2 linked regions of the Homo sapiens genome follow. Each later gene encodes a partner of the first gene's protein in a complex. Each region holds a gene or a part of one and is shown on either strand. Other genes may lie near its edges. A codon is read from its position in the direction of its gene.

What was found. The genes of interacting proteins can lie anywhere in the genome.
Region 2: the proteins of ALB (region 1) and FCGRT are in contact, whole or in part, in a crystal structure (PDB 6QIO), measured with the Homo sapiens proteins. Residues at the interface, in NP_000468.1 of Homo sapiens: Arg105 (codon at 6,829), Glu106 (codon at 6,826), Thr107 (codon at 6,823), Tyr108 (codon at 6,820), Gly109 (codon at 6,817), Glu110 (codon at 6,814), Asp113 (codon at 6,805), Asn133 (codon at 6,745), Asn135 (codon at 6,739), Gln441, Ser443, Pro445, Thr446, Glu449, Leu484, Leu487, His488, Thr491, Pro492, Val493, Tyr521, Val522, Pro523, Lys524, Thr530, Phe531, Thr532, Phe533, His534, Asp536; in NP_001129491.1 of Homo sapiens: Arg65, Glu67, Glu69, Gly72, Ala73, Val75, Trp76, Gln79, Val80, Ser81, Trp82, Trp84, Glu85, Lys86, Thr89, Arg92, Asn172, Lys173, Leu175, Thr176, Leu179, Phe180, His184, Glu188, Arg192, Gly195, Asn196, Trp199, Lys200, Glu201.

The regions. Positions count from the first base shown.
Region 1 is NC_000004.12:73,406,246-73,415,464, reverse strand, and holds part of ALB (albumin preproprotein), read right to left. Parts: intron 8,837-9,219; coding exon 8,704-8,836; intron 6,872-8,703; coding exon 6,660-6,871; intron 6,111-6,659; coding exon 5,978-6,110; intron 5,154-5,977; coding exon 5,056-5,153; intron 3,470-5,055; coding exon 3,340-3,469; intron 2,046-3,339; coding exon 1,831-2,045; intron 431-1,830; coding exon 298-430; intron 1-297. UniProt on the Homo sapiens protein: Binds water, Ca(2+), Na(+), K(+), fatty acids, hormones, bilirubin and drugs. Its main function is the regulation of the colloidal osmotic pressure of blood. Major zinc transporter in plasma, typically binds about 80% of all plasma zinc.
Region 2 is NC_000019.10:49,514,501-49,523,719, reverse strand, and holds part of FCGRT (IgG receptor FcRn large subunit p51 isoform 1 precursor), read right to left. Parts: intron 7,607-9,219; coding exon of another isoform or gene 7,521-7,606; intron 2,026-7,520; coding exon of another isoform or gene 1,907-2,025; intron 1-1,906. UniProt on the Homo sapiens protein: Cell surface receptor that transfers passive humoral immunity from the mother to the newborn. Binds to the Fc region of monomeric immunoglobulin gamma and mediates its selective uptake from milk.

The DNA of each region.
Region 1 (9,219 bases):
TTCTAATTAACATTTAAATTTAATTTTTTTTTGTTCTCAGGATTGTGAAAAAGAGAAAAAAAGATCAAAATTTTTTAGAGATTGCTCTATTCAGATCTTTCTATTCTAACTAGTCTAAATTTTGTTAATCATTCTAAGGCTACTTTTTCTTTCATGTTTAAGATTCCAGAATTGAAACCATCTCAAGAAAAGATCTAAATTGCACTGTATATCATTTTACATTCTTGCATTATTTTTCTTTCTCATTATTGGAATCATCAGTCAAAGAACTACATTTTTTTCCAACAATAAACCTACCACTTTGGCATAGCATTCATGAGGATCTGCAGCGGCACAGCACTTCTCTAGAGTGGTTTCATATGTCTTGGCAAGTCTCAGCAGCAGCACGACAGAGTAATCAGGATGCCTTCTTGCATATTCATACAAAAACCTAATTAAGATGAAAATAAAATAGACTTTGTTGGACAAATGAGCACAAAAAATATCACAAAGCTAATCTCAAAAGTAACTCATATTCCAAAAGTCTTAATTTGACTAAACCCCATGCAGTAAAGCTTAGTAGCTAAGGACTTGGGGTCCAGAGTTAAAGTTACCAAGGCTCAATTCCTAGCTCTGCTACTTATATCACTGCATCACCTTAGGCAACTTATTTAAATGATCAGAGCCTTAGTCTCCTTCTCGGTAGAATGGAAATAATAATAGTATCTGTCGGCTGGGCACAGTGGCTCATGCCTGTAATCCCAGCACTTTAGGAGGCTGAGGCAGGCATATCACCAGAGGTCAGGAGTTTGAGACCAGTCTGACCAACATGGTGAAACCCCATCTCTACTAAAAATACAAAATTAGCCAGGCATGGTGGTGCATGCCTGTAATCCCAGGAGGCTGAGGCAGGAGAATCGCTTGAACCTGGGAGGCGGAGGTTGTGGTGAGCCGAGATGGCACCATTGCACTCCAGCCTGGGCAACAAGAGTAAAACTCTGTCTCAAAAAATAAATAGTATCTGTCTCGGAAGGTGGATTATGAGAACTATATGACATAATCTACACAAAGCACACACTGCTTGGCACATATGAAGTCTTTGATGAATGATACTTGTTATTTTTATTAACATTTTGTTTGATTTAAACTACATCTCAAAAGGATTCTGATAAATAGATGGGCAGAGATATGTTCTTAAAATATTCTCTTTCTTCTCTGTATGAGTGAAATCTTGTAGGGTACATAATTTTAGGAAATATTATTTAGTGCATTATCATAATCCAACAACAAAAATGCAGTTTATCACCACAACTTCTGACAATATGTAAACATTTATTTTGTAATTGAGTTGCCTACCATATTGCCATTATACTGAACTTCTGGTCTTTTCACCAAATATAAAGCACCTGGTGTCAGACTCTATATTTCTTTTTATACTTCTTTGCTATCATTGCATAGATTAGATAGATAGACTAGATTAGATTAGATTAGTTAGATAGACAGGCAATACATAGTCACACACATATATTATAGATGTTCAAGAAATACACTTGGAATGAATGACTGAAGTATACATAATTTATATATACACAAAATGTTTCTAGACGTATTTTCAGAAATACCCCTAAGGAGTAAGGAATGTTGAGCTTTGCCATGAACATGTATTATTTTATGACAATGTATTCAACTAATTAACTATTTCAAAAATTGTTAAAGCCTGGGAAAGGGAAGGATGAAGAAACATTCTGGGCAGCAGGGAAATTGTAGCAACTCCACAGAAAAGCCTAGGCTATCCTCCTAAGTTGTGAGGTCATGCCAAAGCTATAAAAGAATAATTTCTTATCTACTTACATGCCCAGGAAGACATCCTTTGCCTCAGCATAGTTTTTGCAAACATCCTTACTTTCAACAAAATCAGCAGCTAATGAAGGCAAGTCAGCAGGCATCTCATCATTTTCCACTTCGGCAATGCAGTGGGATTTTTCCAACAGAGGTTTTTCACAGCATTCCTTCAGTTTACTGGAGATCGAATCTTGATTTTCACAGATATACTTGGCAAGGTCCGCCTATAAGTAAGTTGGTGGAAATTGTTCAACACGAATTGACATTGCTACACTTTCTCCTCAGACCTTTATTAAGTTGGCAGAACATATTCATTGTATTCTAAGACCATACACATATTCCTTCTATGAACATACTCTGTTTGCTCCTAAACCTGGAGATGTAGATAGGACTACAAAAACATTCCCACTTAATTAAAATAGACTAATCAGTAGCAGGTGCTCAGCTCAGTTATTTATTAATTTTATGTTTCTACTGTTAGGGCATTTAAGTTTTTTTCATTAAAACTCAATGCTGTTTTTCCAAATAATCCCCCAAAATTAAGTGCAGGCCTTTTGAAACCAAATAACTAAATAAAATATAGAAGATTTTTGAAAAATGAGTCAAGATCATAGTCATAGGCCCTGCTTACATATATAAAATAACCGCCTTAAATTTTCCAGAAAGTGCCATGAGAGATTAGGATTCTAGTATTTGCCCATAAGTTTAATCTTGAAGAAAGGGAGAAAGAAAATATTATAAGTTTTGAGAAAAGAGATATCATTCCAAATATTTGCACATCTAACAAACAGAGTTAATTAAGGGAAGGAATATAGAGAAGAAAAATACATCATTTCCAAAAATCTCTTCAAGTAGTGACCTTCTCCAAGTCCACCTACCTCCCTCAAAAAATCTTCTTAGGCTGGGCAAGGTGGCTCATGCCTGTAATCCCAGCACTTTGGGAGGCCAAGGCGGGTGGATCACCTGAGGTCAGGAGTTCGAGACCAGTCTGGACAATATGGTGAAACCCCGCCTCTACTAAAAATACAAAATTAGCCAGGTGTGGTGGCGCATGCCTGTAATCCCAGCTACTTGGGAGGCTGAGGCATGAGAATCACTTGAACCCAGGAGGCAGAGGTTGCGCTGAGCCAAGATCACACCATTGCACCCCAGCCTGGGAAACAAGAGCGAAACTCTGTCTTAAAAAAAGAAAAAAAAATCTTCTTAGACATCTACCTTGCAAGATGTTCTGCCAAGTAAAACCTTGTAACTGTTCTACTTCAGTTTAAGCCTTCATTTACAGTTAGAGCATGACTGAAAGGAGTTACAAATCAGTGAATGGGTTTATCTGGTAATTTATAGCCAGGTTAAAAACAGAAAGGTACCACCACCATAGGCAGGGAAAGATTGAAGATAGGACAGACGAAAGCACAGAAGACAATCTCAACCCACTGTCAGCTATCACCAATGATACCAAACGCATCCATTCTACCAACTTGAGCATGCAAGCTACCAAAAAGCATATCGACGACTCTTTACCCTGTCATCAGCACATTCAAGCAGATCTCCATGGCAGCATTCCGTGTGGACTTTGGTAAGATCTGTCACTAACTTGGAAACTTCTGCAAACTCAGCTTTGGGAAATCTCTGGCTCAGGCGAGCTACTGCCCTAAAAAGAAAATCGCCAATCAAAATGGTATTATCATGCGATATTTTATATGAAAACACTAGGCAAATACTATTTCTCATAAGAAAATTCAAAATGGACATACAGAAATAATTTTTAAAATTCATTAGTTCTAGTTCTGAACCAAATGGTAATCACTTATCCTTAGGGCAGAATTATCCATTTAAGAGTGTGTGTGGTAGGTAGAAATCTAGCAAGTCATAAAAGCAGAAATTAAAAAGGAACTCTAAAAGGGGCAACAGGCTGAGAAGCATCAGGTTTGGAGTCCAGATGTGACTTCCAGCTCTGGCTTTATCACTTGTTAGCAGTAGGACTTGTTAGCAGAGGGCTCAGCCTCTCTGAGCTTCAGCCTCTGCAGTGTCATGACAACATGCTAAATTGAAGAAGTTTTGAGGATTAAATTAGATAATACATACAAAAGCATTTTATAATCTGGGAAGTACTACACAAACTCCAGTTATCTTTTTTCTCAATTGAAACACATTTTTTCTGACTTCTAAAGGTCTCTTAGAAAAGAAATCATAACTTCTACAGAATGAGGGAGTTTTTATTGATCTTACTTATAAAAAGAAAGATCCAGCACTATCTTCAAACTCTATGACAAGATGTAAACGTCTAATTTTCTTCATTCTCTAGTCATTTCACAGTTGCCTAAATCAGGTAAAGGTGACTTCTTTCCCAAAACCAATCATAGCCTGTTTATCTGTGTATAATTTTATGTTGGGGCTGTTTTTTTTCATAAATTTGGTTGATTTTGGTGGTGTAGATGGTAGGAATGATGAGCAAATACAGTTCAATTGACAGTTTCTAGAGAGCATGCATAATGTCTATTATTTTCATTTTATTTCCTGTTGTGTTGATTTGCTGTTGACTAGCAGGTGAGGAGTGTGGGTGACGGGGCAGCTAGTATTTTTCTTGACTCGGCTATTAAAGTATGCTCCCAGAACCAACTAAGTAATATGAAAACAGAGGCTCAGGCAAAAACATGAGATGAAGATCAGAGCTGGAGCTATGCAAAAATAAGAAGTAACTTCAACTTAGTTGGTGACTGAATTTAACTATAAGACATAAAAGGACAAGCAAATAGTTTTAGATCATTGGGGGGAAGATAAAATTAAATAAAGGGATTATATATGTTGTATACTTATATCAAAATATCTCATATACCCCGTAAATATGTATACCTACTCTGTATCCACAAAAATTAAAAATAACTTTAAAAAATTAAATAAAGAACCATGCCTACAGCTCTATAAAAATAATGAACCATTAGAATAAGAGTCCAAGATTTTATAAATAAATAGAACTTAAATATCTGTCCCTTTTTTTAGGACAAAAAGGACAGCGTCCTCTAAATTATTCAACTATTTAGAAAAGAAAAGATTAAAAATAATGTCAAATTGTCATTGATATTCTGATTTTTACCTCTATTAGAGTTCTACCTGTTAGACAACCAAAGAAATGTATTTGACAGCACTTTGCAAAATACATAAAAATGTACAATTTGTCACTGAAGCATTATCATTTACATCGTTATAAAGATGCCAACTATGTTTAAAAGTATTTACCATGCTTTGAAAGCTCTTTCTCCAAATTTTTGGAGACTGGCACACTTGAGTCTCTGTTTGGCAGACGAAGCCTTCCCTTCATCCCGAAGTTCATCGAGCTACAAAAAGGAATAATTTGATGAAAATTAGAAGAAAAATTCTACATGAAACACCCCTCCATAAGCTCAGATGAGACTGTGCCAAATTAAATTTTGAAGGCATAATTTATGCCTAAATTCCCAAGTACTCCCTTTAGCGAATAATGATTTTGCTCTCTAAGAAAAGGAAAGATCATTCGATCATTCTGGTCACAGCGGAATTCCCTATGTAGTTAGAAACCAACTGGAAACATTGCCAGGAAAAAGAGCCTTAAAAGTGGGAGAAAAGTCAGAGAAAGAGTACGCTAATATCCCAGGGGCTGCAATTTTGCTAATTTTTAAATTTTGTGTATAATTCATTTCAGTCTCTCCTCCACCAACATCAGTAAACTCCTCAGAAAAGAAAATAAAGCATTCCATAATATATATTTATGGAATGAATGCATGAACTCAGGCATCTAGATGCAGTAAAATTCTCTACTTTGAATTCCCTCCCTACTAAAAATTATCATGAAAAGATAAACAAGAACTGTGGCCCCTTGCTGTGCAATTTGACAAACAAGTTTCAGTATTTCACTATAGTGATCACCACCATAAAAAGTGGTGAAATCTTTAAACACATGCACAGTGATTACCTCTGACAGATCATCATTGGCAAATCTTAAAAGAAGAAACGAGAGTGTAGGCCTTCAAAGATGAAAGATTTTCAAGACAGATAAAAGGAAGGCTTTTTTGACCATGTCGGAAAGTTTGTATCAGACACTCAGGTTCCCTAAATCTAGCCACAAAATGGACAAAATCAGGTTGGATAATGAACTCTTTTTTTCTATTCTTTTGCATAATACCTTTGGCAACAGGCAGGCAGCTTTATCAGCAGCTTGGCAACATTCTGTAAAAGCAGCTTTATACCTTTTAGCAAAGAAAAGGAGTTCCGGGGCATAAAAGTAAGGATGTCTTCTGGCAATTTCATATAAGTATCTAAATTTTGAAAAAGAAAAACAGTCACTTTTCTATAGCAGACAATATTACAGAAATAATTGTAATCGACATTCTCCCCAGAACCTCCAAATTCCAAAGATATCTAATTAACCAATTAAGCTCAATTTGCACATGATGGTCTTGTCTCTGTCATTCTTTAAGTATGTGGAAAAAAGGGTTAAGTGTGTGTGTGTGTGTGTGTGTGTGCATAAATGGTTAAATTTTGGCAATATAATGTTGCTGACTAAAACGAAATCAATTATAACAACCATATATACATATCTTCGTAATACATTAAATAATTTGTCTATCTTAAATTTTTCAGAAAGATTGTATCCTGTTTCAATAAACTTCAAAATATCTTTGATCATATTTTTTGCTGTGTAGAATTTTGTGGTATCAAATACTACTTCTTTAAAAAATCATCATAACAAAACTTCCAAGTCTTAATGTTGAAAATATTTTTGTTATGGTAATTTTTATAGAGTGTTGGCCTATGGAGTTACTCCATGCTTTTTAATTTTGAACTATAAACATCTGATTACTTACTTTTTCAAAAATGTCTCTTCATTGTCATGAAAAGCAGTGCACATCACATCAACCTCTGGTCTCACCAATCGGGGGAGGTTTGGGTTGTCATCTTTGTGTTGCAAGAAGCATTCATTTCTCTCAGGTTCTTGTTTTGCACAGCAGTCAGCCATTTCACCATAGGTTTCACGAAGAGTTGCAACTGTGCATAATTTGTCTCCAAAAAGGGTATGCTAAATGGAAGAAAGCAGGTTTCAGTTGCTGGACAGTACCTTTTTTCTTTATAGCCAAAGAACAGTACAAAGGATTTAATATACTGGTTAAGCTTGGTCAGGAAATCATTTAAAAATCCGCTTCCCCTCCCAATCGAGGTTTACAGTTTCTGATGATTTAACCATCTCTATATAATTTTCATAAGAATTAACTGTCACACTATAACTCATGGTGAATAAAACAGGACAAAAAGACAGTCAATAGCTTTAAGGAAAGTTATATGACTCCTATTTTGAAACTTAAAACTAAAGGGTAAGAGCAATCATTATAACAGAAATCAAGAGAAAATAAGCTTCTAAGCAGCAGGTGAATTCACCTAGGGGAGAAAAACATTCAGAGAGTTTCTCATTTCATTTGCCCCCTTTTTAGAGGGCCATGTTTTAGTATATGCCATTGAAAACTGAGGAGTAACACAATCCATCATATATTAAGTGACTATTAAGATATAGACATTTTTCTTCCAGAAATGTTACCTAAAATCACTTTCCAATAAATGAGTCCTTTCCTTATCTCTAATTTTTATTATGAAAGTAACTGTAACCCCAGGGAAAATATACTACTCTAGACAGAATTTATTAATTTTTATGTATTTTTAAGATTTCATATGTAGAGCCATAGTATTGTGTAAAGTTAAAGTCCTGACTCTGCTGTGAGGGAGAGGTACATAATAAAAAGGGGAAAGGCTCCAGTGATAAAAACTGGCCTTGCCCACAAGAGGTATATATAGATTGAGTGGTGAGAGAAAGATAAACCTGTCCTTGTTTTGAAGATTGATCTGGAAATACTAAAAGTTTAAAGTTCTTCAACATGACTAAGTACTCTGCTTTTTTATTGTATGTAGAAATACAAAGATATCTAAAATGAGGAATATATAGCTGTACTATTATTCCACCCAGGTAACAAAATTAGCATAGAAATCAGTGGGTGTTTTCTGATGATAAAAACCATGATATCATCTCTAAGAGATAGTAGCTCTCCTGTGTTCATTGCAACACTATTCATGATAGTCAAGATGTAGAAAACCAACCTAAATGTCTATCAATCAACAAATTAATGGATAAAGAAAATGTGGTACACACATGCACTGGAATATTATTCAGCCTTGAAAAGAAGGAAATTCTGCAATAGGCAACAACATGGTTGGACTTTGAATGCACTATGCTAAGGGAAATAAGTCAGTCATAAAAAGATAAACAGTACATAATACCACTTATATAAGGTAGCTAAAGTAGTCAAACTCATAGAATCAAAGAGTATAATGCTGGTTGCCAGTGGCTGGGGGAGGACGAAACGAGGGGTTACTAATCAATGGGCACAAAGTTTTAATACAGCAAGATGAGTAAGCTATACAACAGTGTACCCGTAGTTAACAATAATGGATTGTACACTTAAAAATATAACAGGGTAGATCTCATGTTAAGGGTTCTTACTATAATAAAATAAGATAAATAAATAAATAAATACATGCTATCATATCCCTATTAGCCTCTACAAAAAGAAACCAAACCTCAAATTTTAAAAAGAGGTGTTTATAAATGACAAATTGCCATTTAAATACACCATGACTGTTGTGTTTGGTCTCAATAAAGAAATGATTTTAAAACTGTGGACATAGCTAAAGCATCTCTATCACAAAAGAAACAATGGCTTATCAGTCTATGAGCAACTTTTTAGTGTTTCTTACAAATCAGGACACTTAATAATAATTGAGAAAACTTAAAAAAAATTCCTTTGAAATGCTTGGGATTACTTCAAACAGAAGAAAGAATCTCCACAATTAGAATGTACTTACAAGTGATTTGTCACAATTTTCAGCTGACTCATCAGCAACACATGTTTTTGCAAATTCAGTTACTTCATTCACTAATTTTACATGATCTTCAAATGGACACTGCTGAAGATACTGAGCAAAGGCAATCAACACCCTGAAACAAAGGATGTAGAAAAATGTAGTATAATAAAACTTTAATATGTAACAGGTTGCTACGCTAGAGAACAAATCATGTATGGGTATAGGTTCTATCTTTTATACATCTTCTTCACCATTATCCAGAAAGCCTATTCATATCAGGTATGATCTGAGGCCTAGATAGGCATATGTGGCTTCCTACGCAAAGAGAATGGTAGTTCCCTAATGTTTATATGTATGCGTGTGTCAGTAGATCTATGCACACACATAGATTAAGCAAGCAAATTGTATGCCAAATAGATCTAATTGTCAAGACTAGGCATTTTTAAAGTCCTTAGAATTACTTAAAACTAAAACAAACCCCACAGATTTCCTTTTTCTTTTTTGAGACAGAGTCTC
Region 2 (9,219 bases), on another chromosome or scaffold:
CTTGGCTAATTTTTTGTATTTTTAGTAGAGACGGGGTTTCACCGTCTTAGCCAGGATGGTCTCAATCTCCTGACCTCATGATCCATCCGCCTGGGCCTCCCAAAGTGTTGGGATTACAGGTGTGAGCCACCACGCCTAGCCTTTTGTTTTTGAGATAAGAGTCTCGCTCTGTCACCCAGGCTGGAGTGCAGTGGCACGATCTCGACTCACTGCAACCCCCACTTCCTGGGTTCAAGAGTTTCTTCTTCCACAGCCTCCCGAGTGGCTGGGACTACAGGTGCATGCACCACCATGCCGGGTAATTTTTTTATTTTTAGTAGAGACGGTGTTTCACCATATTGGCCAGGCTGGTCTCAAATTCCTGACATTGTGATCTACCTGCCTCAGCCTCCCAAAGTGCTGGGATTACAGGCATGATGCACCACACCCGGCCTATTTAAAATTTTTAATCCATAGTTTAAAACTTTCCAAAAACTAAAATTCCAGGTCCAGAAGACATCAATTAGTGAATTCTTCCAATGTAGAAATGATTCTATTCCTACACTAACTCTTCAGGCCATAAAACAGAGGAAACACTCTCCCAGCATATTTTATGAGGTCAGCATCATCTTGACAACAAAGCACATTATAAGAAAGAGAACTTGGCCAGGCGCGGTGGCTCACGCCTGTAATCCCAGCACTTTGGGAGGCCGAGGCAGGCGGATCACGAGGTCAGGAGATTGAGACTATCCCGGCTAACACGGTGAAACCCCATCTCTACTAAAAATACAAAAAATTAGCCGGGCGTGGTGGCCGGCGCCTGTAGTCCCAGCCACTTGGGAGGCTGAGGCAGGAGAATGGCGTGAACCCGGGAGGCGGAGCTTGCAGTGAGCCGAGATTGCGCCACTGCACTCCAGCCTGGGTGACAGAGCGAGACTCCATCTCAAAAAAAAAAAAAAAAAAAAAAAAAGAGAGCTTAAGGCCAATGTCTCTCATAAATATAGATTCAGGACAGGTGTGGTGGCTCACACCTAGAATCCTGGCGCTTTGGGGGGTGGAGGCAGGAGGATCACGAGGTCAGGAGGTCGAGACCAGCCTGACCAACATGGTGAAATCCCATCTCTACTAAAAATACAAAAAAATTAGCCAGGCATGGTGGCGTGTACCTGTAATCCCAGCTACTCAGGAGGCTAAGGCAGGAGAATCGCTTGAACCCAGAAGGCGGAGGTTGCATTGAGCCAAGATTGCACCATTGCACTCCAGCCTGGGCGACAGAGCAAGACTGTCTCAAAAAAAATAAAAAATTAAAAATTTTAAAAAATTTAAAAAAAGATTCAGAACTCTTAAACATAATATTAGCAGACAGGCTGGGTGCAGTGGCTCACTCCTACAATCCCAGCGCTTTGGGAGAATGAGGTGGATCACTTGAACCCAGGAGTTGGAGACCAGCCTGGGCAAACAGTAAGACGTAGTCTCCACTACAAATAAAAAAAATTAGCCAGTGTGGTGGATGTGCCTGTGGTCCCACCTACTCTGGAGACTGAGGCAGGAGGAATCCTTGAGCCCAGGAGTTTGAGGCTGGAGTGAGTTATGATCACACCTGGGTATAGCCACTGCACTCCAGCCTGGGCGACAGAGCAAGACTCCGTCTAAAAAAAAAAAAAAAAATTCATAAACTTTATAAAATGTATAAATTGAAGTCGATAAACTGAACTTCACTGAAATTAAGAATTTTTGTTCATCCAAAGGTTTCGTTAAGGGAATGAAAAAAGGTTGGGTGCAGTGGTTCATGCCTGTAATCCCAGCACTTTGGGAAGCTGAGGCAGGAGGATCACTGGAAGCCGGGAGTTCAAGACCAGCCTGGGCAACATGGAGAAACCCCGTCTCTGAAAAAGTTTAAAAATTAACTACGTGTGATGGTACACACCTGTGGCCCCATCCATTCAGGAAGGGTAAGGTGGGAGGATCGCTTGAGCTTGGGAGGTTGAGGCTGCAGTGAACTCTAATCCCGCTACTGCACTCCAGTCTAGGCAACAGTGCAAGTGCCTGTCTCAAAGAAAAAAAAAAAAAAAAGCCGGGTGCAATGGCTCATGCCTGCAATTCCAGCACTTGGGAGGTCAAGGCAGAAGGATCCTTACGCCCAGGCTTTCTTTTCCTTTTTTTTTTTTTTTTTTTGAGACGGAGTCTCTGTCGCCCAGGCTGGAGTACAGTGGCACAATCTTGGGTCACTGCAACCTCCGCCTCCTGGGGTCAAGCGATTCTCCTGCCTCAGCCTCCAGAGTAGCTGGGATTACAGGCGCACACCACCACGCCCAGCTAATTTTTCTATTTTTAGTAGAAACAGGGTTTCACCATATTGGCCAGGCTGGTCTTGAACTCCTGACCTCGTGATCCGCCTGCCTCAGCCTCCCAAAGTGCTGGGATTACAGGCGTGAGTCACTGTGCCCGGCCAAGCCCAGGACTTCTAGACCAGCCTTGGCAACAAATACCCCATCTCTACAAAAAATAGAAAATGTTAGCCAGGCATGGTGACGTGTACCTATAGTCCCAGCTACTTGTAAGGCTGAGGCGGGAGGATCTCTTGAGCTTGGGAGTCCAAGGCTACATGGCGCTATGACTGTGCCACTGCACTCCACTCCAGTCTGGGCGACAGAGCAAGATCCCAGCTCAAAAAAGAAAATAAAAGGCAAAGATTTCAGCAACTGCCTAGGACTGGGCATTACTGCCCAAGTTCCTTTCAGGGAGGGTGGATCTGGGCAATCGTGGGTCTTGGCTGGGATCTTGGTTTTGGTTGCTCAGCAGAAAACACATTTGCTGCTTCAGGAAAGCACAGCAGCTTCTCCCTCCTGGAGCTGCCTCTCTGGCAAGTCGGCAGAATTTGCTGCACCGTCAGGTGGAATGGAGGGACCGGGCTGACGGCCATCAGCAGTTCTGGCTTCTGCTTTATGTTCACTATTCTTTTCAGCAAATCTGTATCTTCCTGTGTCGTGCTCACAGCCACGTGCCTTCAGCCTCAAGGTACTTCCAATATAGACTAAATCCAAGCACAGAAAATCTGTCTGGCCTTTGGTTCTGTTTAACAAAATACCAAACCAGGTCAGGCATGGTGGCTCACGTCTGTAACCCCAGCACTTTGGGAGGCTGAGGCAGGCAGATCACCTGATGTCAGGAGTTCAAGACCAGCTTCGCCAACATGGTGAAACTCCATCTCTACTAAACATATAAAAATTAGCTAGGCATGGCAGCGCATGCCTGTAGTCCCAGCTACCCTGGAGGCTGAGGCAGGAGGATCACTTGAATCCAGGAGGCGGAGGTTGCAGTGAGCTGAGATCATGCCATTGTACTCCAGCCTGCGCAATAAGAGTGAAACTCCATCTCAAAAAAAAAAAAAAAATCCATCCTGGCCAACATGGTGAAACCCTGTCTGTACTAAAAATACAAAAATTAGCTGGGTGTGGTGGTGTGTGCCTGTAATTCCAGCTACTAAGGAGGCTGAGGCAGGAGGATCACTTGAACCTGGGAGGTGGAGGTTGCAGTGAGCCGAGATCGTGCTACTGCACTCCAGCCTGGTGACAGAGGGAGACGCCCTCTCAAAAAAAAAAAAAAAAAAGCCCGGGCGCGGTGGCTCACGCCTGTAATCCCAGCACTTTGGGAGGCCGAGGCAAGTGGATCACAAGGTCAGGAGTTCAAGACCAGCCTGCCCAACATAGTGAAACCCCATCTCTCCAAAAAAAATACAAAAATTAGCCAGGCATGGTGGCACGCACCTGTAATCCCAGCTACTCAGGAGGCTGAGGCAGCAGAATCGCTTGAACCTGGGAGGCGGAGGTTGCAGTGAGCCAAGATCGCAACACTGCACTCCAGCCTGGGCGACAGAGCAAGACTCCATCTCAAAAAAAAAAAAAAAAAAAAAAGATTAAGGCAATGGCCATTGCTATCCGCTAAAACCATCAGGAGAAAACCTGACAAAGAACTTCATAACAACACCCGAATCCAGTGGTCCACAGAACAGCACAGAAGCAAGCAGATGTTTGCAGCCTATGCACACAGACATACGCACCAACTACCCAGAAAGTTTTCTTGCCATAAAAATTGAACCAGAATCTGACCAAGCTTCTAGATGGAGCTGCTCCTTTAAAGAAGAGAAGGAGGACTATTTCCAGCAACATCACAGGATGCAAAGGGCAAAATCCAGTCTAGGAGAAACTCAATAGGACATAAACTGACTTTCTTCAAACCACAATTACAGGGGGAAAAAAAACAAAAAGAAAATGGGAAACCTGTAAATCAAAAGACACTCAAGATCACAAGTAACTCAAATTACCTGAAAATGAATCACAGACCTAACTGTAAAATGCAAAACTTTAAAACTCTTAAAATACACAGGAGAAGATCTAGCTGACTTTGGGTTTGGTGATTACTTCTGAGATTAAACACCAAAAGCATAATCCACGATAGAAAAAAAAAAAAGAATAAACTGGATTTCATCAAAGTTAAAAACTTTTGCTTTGTGAAAGGCACAGTTAAAACAATGAAAAGACAACCTAGAGAGTGGAAGAAATATTTGCAAAACACCTATCTGGTAAAAAATTGGAATCCGGCCGGGCGCGGTGGCTCAAGCCTGTAATCCCAGTACTTTGGGAGGCTGAGGCAGGCGGATCAGGAGGTCAGGAGATCGAGACCATCCTGCCTAACACAGTGAAACTCTGTCTCTACTAAAAATACAAAAAATTAGCCGGGCGTGGTGGTGGGCGCCTGTAGTCCCAGCCACTCGGGAGGCTGAGGCAGGAGAATTGGTGCAACTTGGGAGGTGGAGGTTGCAATGAGCTGAGATCGCGCCACTGCACCCCAGCCTGGGTGACAGAGCGAGACTCCGTCTCCAAAAAAAAGAAAAAAACAAAAATACGGCCGAGCGCGGTGGCTCACGCCTGTAATCCCAGCACTTTGGGAGGCCGAGGTGGGTGGATCACCTGGGGTCGGGAGTTCGAAACCAGCCTGGCCAACATGGTGAAACTCTGTCTCTACTAAAGATACAAAAAATTAGCAGGGCGTGGTGGCTTGCGCCTGTAATCCCAGCTACTTGGGACGCTGAGGCAGGAGAATTGCTTGAACCCGGGAGGCAGAAGTTGCAGTGAGCCGAGTTCGTGCCTCTGCACTCCAGTCTGGGCGACAGAGTAAGACTTTGTCTCAAAAAACAAACAAACAAAAATAGCTAGGCCTGATGGCGTGCACCTGTGGTCCTACCTACTGGGGAGGCTGAAGTGGGAGAATTACTTGAGCCCAGGAAGTTCAGACTGCAGTGAGCTATGATTGCACCACTGGACTCCAGTCTGGTGACAGAGCAAGACCCTGTCTCAAAAAGGAAAAAAAAAAAAAAAAAGAAAGAAAGAAAAATTCAACAATCAGAAAAAGACACTGAAAAGACAACAAAATGTGTGGACCTTGCTGGATGCTGATTCAAACTTTAAAAAACATTTACAGTCAGGAATATGGGAACAAAAACTGGACATCTGATGCCATTAAAGAGTTAATTGGTTGTAGGTGTGATGATGGTTTTGGTATTAATTTTTTTTAAATGCCCTTACCTAGTAGAGTTACATACTAAAGGACTTATCAACAAAACAGTCTGGCTGGGCACGGTGACTCCCGCACTTTGGGAGGCTGAGGAGGGCAGATCACTTGAGGTGGAGGGTTCGAGACCAGCCTGGCCAACATAGTGAAATCCCGTCTCTACTAAAAATACAAAAATTGGCCAGGCGCGGTGGCTTATGCCTGTAATCCCAGCACTTTGGGAGGCCAAGGTGGGTGGATCACGAGGTCAGGAGTTCAAGACCAGCCTGGCCAATATGGTGAAACCTCATCTCTACTAAAAATACAAAAATTGGCTGGGCGAGGTGGCGGGCACCTGTAATCCCAGCTACTCAGGAGGCTGAGGCAGGAGAATTGTTTGAACCTGGGAGGCGAAGCTTGCAGTGAGCCGAGACTGAGCCACTACACTCCCGCATGACAGAGTGAGACTCCATCTCAAAATACAAACAAACAAAGAAAAAAACACTGTGATGTCTGAGATTTACCAAAGCTTGATGTGAAGTGGGGTGGGGAAGTGAGTGAGGATGTGCGTGAAATTCAAAAAACCATGGGTTGATAATTATTAAGTCTCAGTGATGGGATGCTCGCTTCCTTCCTTCCTTCCTTCCTTTCCTTCCTCTTTCTCTCTCCCTCTCCTCTCTCTTTCTTTCCTTCTTTCTTTGAGACAGAGTCTTGCTTTGTTGCCCAGGCTGGAGTGCAGTGGCTTGATCTCGGCTCACTGCAACCTCTGCTTCCCGGGATCAAGTGATTCTCCTGCCTCAGCCTCCCGAATAGCTGGAATTACAAGCACCCACCACCGCACCCGGCTAATTTTTGTATGTTTAGTAGAGATGGGGTTTCACTCTGTTGGCCAGGCTTATCTCAAACTCCTGACCTTAAGTGATCTGCCCACCTCGGCCTCCCAAAGTGTTGGAATTACAGGCGTGAGCCACTGCACCTGGCCACCATATTTTTTTTCTTTTTGAGACAGGGTCTGGCTCTGTCATCTGGGCTGGAGTGCAGAGTTGCAATCAGTTCACTACAGCCTCAAACTCCTGAGCTCAAGCGATCCTCCTGCCATAGCCTCCCCAGTGGCTGGGACTAGAGGCACATACCACCATGCCAGGCTAATTTTTTGAGTTTTTAGTAGAGATGCGGTCTTACTATGTTGCCCAGGCTGGTCTTGAACTCCTGGGATCAAGCAATCCACCTGCCTCGGCCTCCCAAAGTTCTGGGATTATAGGCGTGAGCCACCGTGTCTGGTCCGTTTTATACTATTGTTTCTACTTAAGTGTGGTTTGAAACTTTCCCTCCTTAAGCCAGGAGTGGTGGCTCATGCCTGTAATCCCAGCACTTTGGGAGGCCAAGGTAGGCAGATCACGAGATCAGGAGTTCGAGACCAGCCTGGCCAGCATGGTGAAGCCCCCGTCTCTACTAAAAATACAAAAATTAGCCAGGCATGGTGGTGTGTGCCTGTAATCCCAGCTACTCGGGAGGCTGAGGTAGGAGAATTGCTTGAACCTGGGAGGCGGAGGTTGCAGTGAGCCAAGATTGCGCCACAGTACTGCAGTCTGGGCGACAGTGCAAGAGTCTGTCTCAAAAACAACAACAACAACAACAAAGGCCAGGAGCAGTGGCTCACGTCTGTAATTCCAGCACTTTGGGAGGCCGAGGCAGGCAGATCACGAGGTCAAAAGATCGAGACCATCCCGGCCAACATGGTAAAACCCTGTCTTTACTAAAAAAAAAAAAACAAACAAAAATTAGCCAGGCGTGGTGGTGCACGCCTGTAGTCCCAGCTACTCGGGAGGCTGAGGCAGGAGAATCACTTGAACCTGGGAGGCGGAGGTTGCAGTGAGCCGAGATCGCGCCATTGCACTCCAGCCTGGGCGACAAGAGCGAAACTCTGTCTCAAAAAAAGAAAGAAATTTTCCCTACTTAGGAAAGAAAGAAGACAATTAAAGAAAAACTACCTGGTTGAGTCTCAACTTCTCCTTTGTGGCACTTGGAATGAATATCTGTGCACATCCCCAGCTGGTATCTATCTTTGTCCAGCAGCCTGGGAGCCACAGAGGGTGAATGTGTGTCACTTCCCTCTTTGCTCAAGGCCCAGAGCAGCGCCTGGCAGTGCAAATGCTCTTGGCCAACAGTTGAATGAGTGGGGATCTGGGGGCCTCCGGGGAGGAAACAGTGAACTCTGCCCTACAGAGCTGAGGAAAGGCTTCTCAGAGGAAGTGATATCCAGCCCTGACCTTGAAGAATAAGGAGGGCTGGAGTATATGCAGAGAGGGGGAAGGGTGGAACAGAGAGGTGCCAGGGGAAACTGGATGAGCAAATGCCCAGAGGGAGGAGATTGCTTATGTTGGGTGGCTGGAGCGTAGACTCTGATGGCTGCGTAGAGACAAGTGCTGCTGCGTGGGTCTGATGAGGACATTAAGGCAAGGAAGGCCAAGCACAGTGGCTCACACCTGTCATCCCAGCACCCTGGGAGGCCAAAGTGAGAGAATCACTTGAGGCCAGGAGTTTGAGTCTGGCCTGGGCAGCATAGTGAGATGCCACCTCTACAACAAATTTTAAAAATTAGCCAGGTATGGCCAGACGCGGTAGCTCACTCCTGTAATCCCAGCACTTTGGGAGGCGGAGGTGGGTGGATCACTTGAGGTCAAGAGTTTGAGACCAGCCTAGCTACCATGACGAAACCCCATCTCTACTAAAAGTATAAAAATTAGCCAGACATGGTGGATGTGCCTATAGTGCCAGCTACTCATGAGGCTGAAGCAGCGGAATCCCTTAAACCCAGGAGGCGGAGGTTGCAGCGAGCTGAGATCACCCTGCTTCACACTAGCCTGGGCAACAGAGATTGTGCGGAAAAAAAAAAATTAGCCAGTTATGGTGGTATGCACCTGTAATCTCAGCTACTCAGGAGACCAAAGCAGGAGAATCGCTGGAGCCTAGGAGTTCAAGACCAGCCTGGGCAACATAGTGAGACACCGTGTCTACAAAATATAAAGTTAGCCAGGTGTGATGATGCTGGGCTGTGGTCCCAGCTACTTGGTTGGCTGAGGTGGGAGGACTGCTTGAGCCTGGGAGGTTCAGGCTGCAGTGAGCCGAGATGGTGCCACCACATTCCAGCCTGGGGTGACAGAGCGAGAATCTGTCTCAAAAAAAAAAAAAAGGGGGGAGCCAGGAGCAGTAGCTCATGCCTGTAATCCCAGCACTTTGGGAGGCTGAGGTGGGCGGATCACCTGAGGTCAGGGGTTTGAGACCAGCCTGACCAACATGAAGAAACCCCGTCTCTACTAAAAATACAAAATTAGCCGGGCATGGTGGTGCATGCCTGTAATCCCAGCCACTCGGGAGGCTGAGGCAGGAGATCACTTGAACCCGGGAGGCGGAGGTTGTGGTGAGCCGAGATCGCGCCATTACACTCCAGCCTGGGCAACAAGAGCGAAACTCCGTCTCACAAAAAAAAAAAAAAAAAGAAGGCAAGGAAGGAAGCCAGGAGTTTGTCCTGGGGGGCGCTGGGGAGCCATGGGAGGGCTGAGTGTAGAAGGACCCCTGAGGAATGGGGGGGCAGAGCGTGGGCTGCAGTGGGAGGCTGATGGAGGGTCCTGGCAGGGGAACTGAGGCAGGTGGGCATGACGGGAGAGAGGACAGAACAGCCTGCGGCTG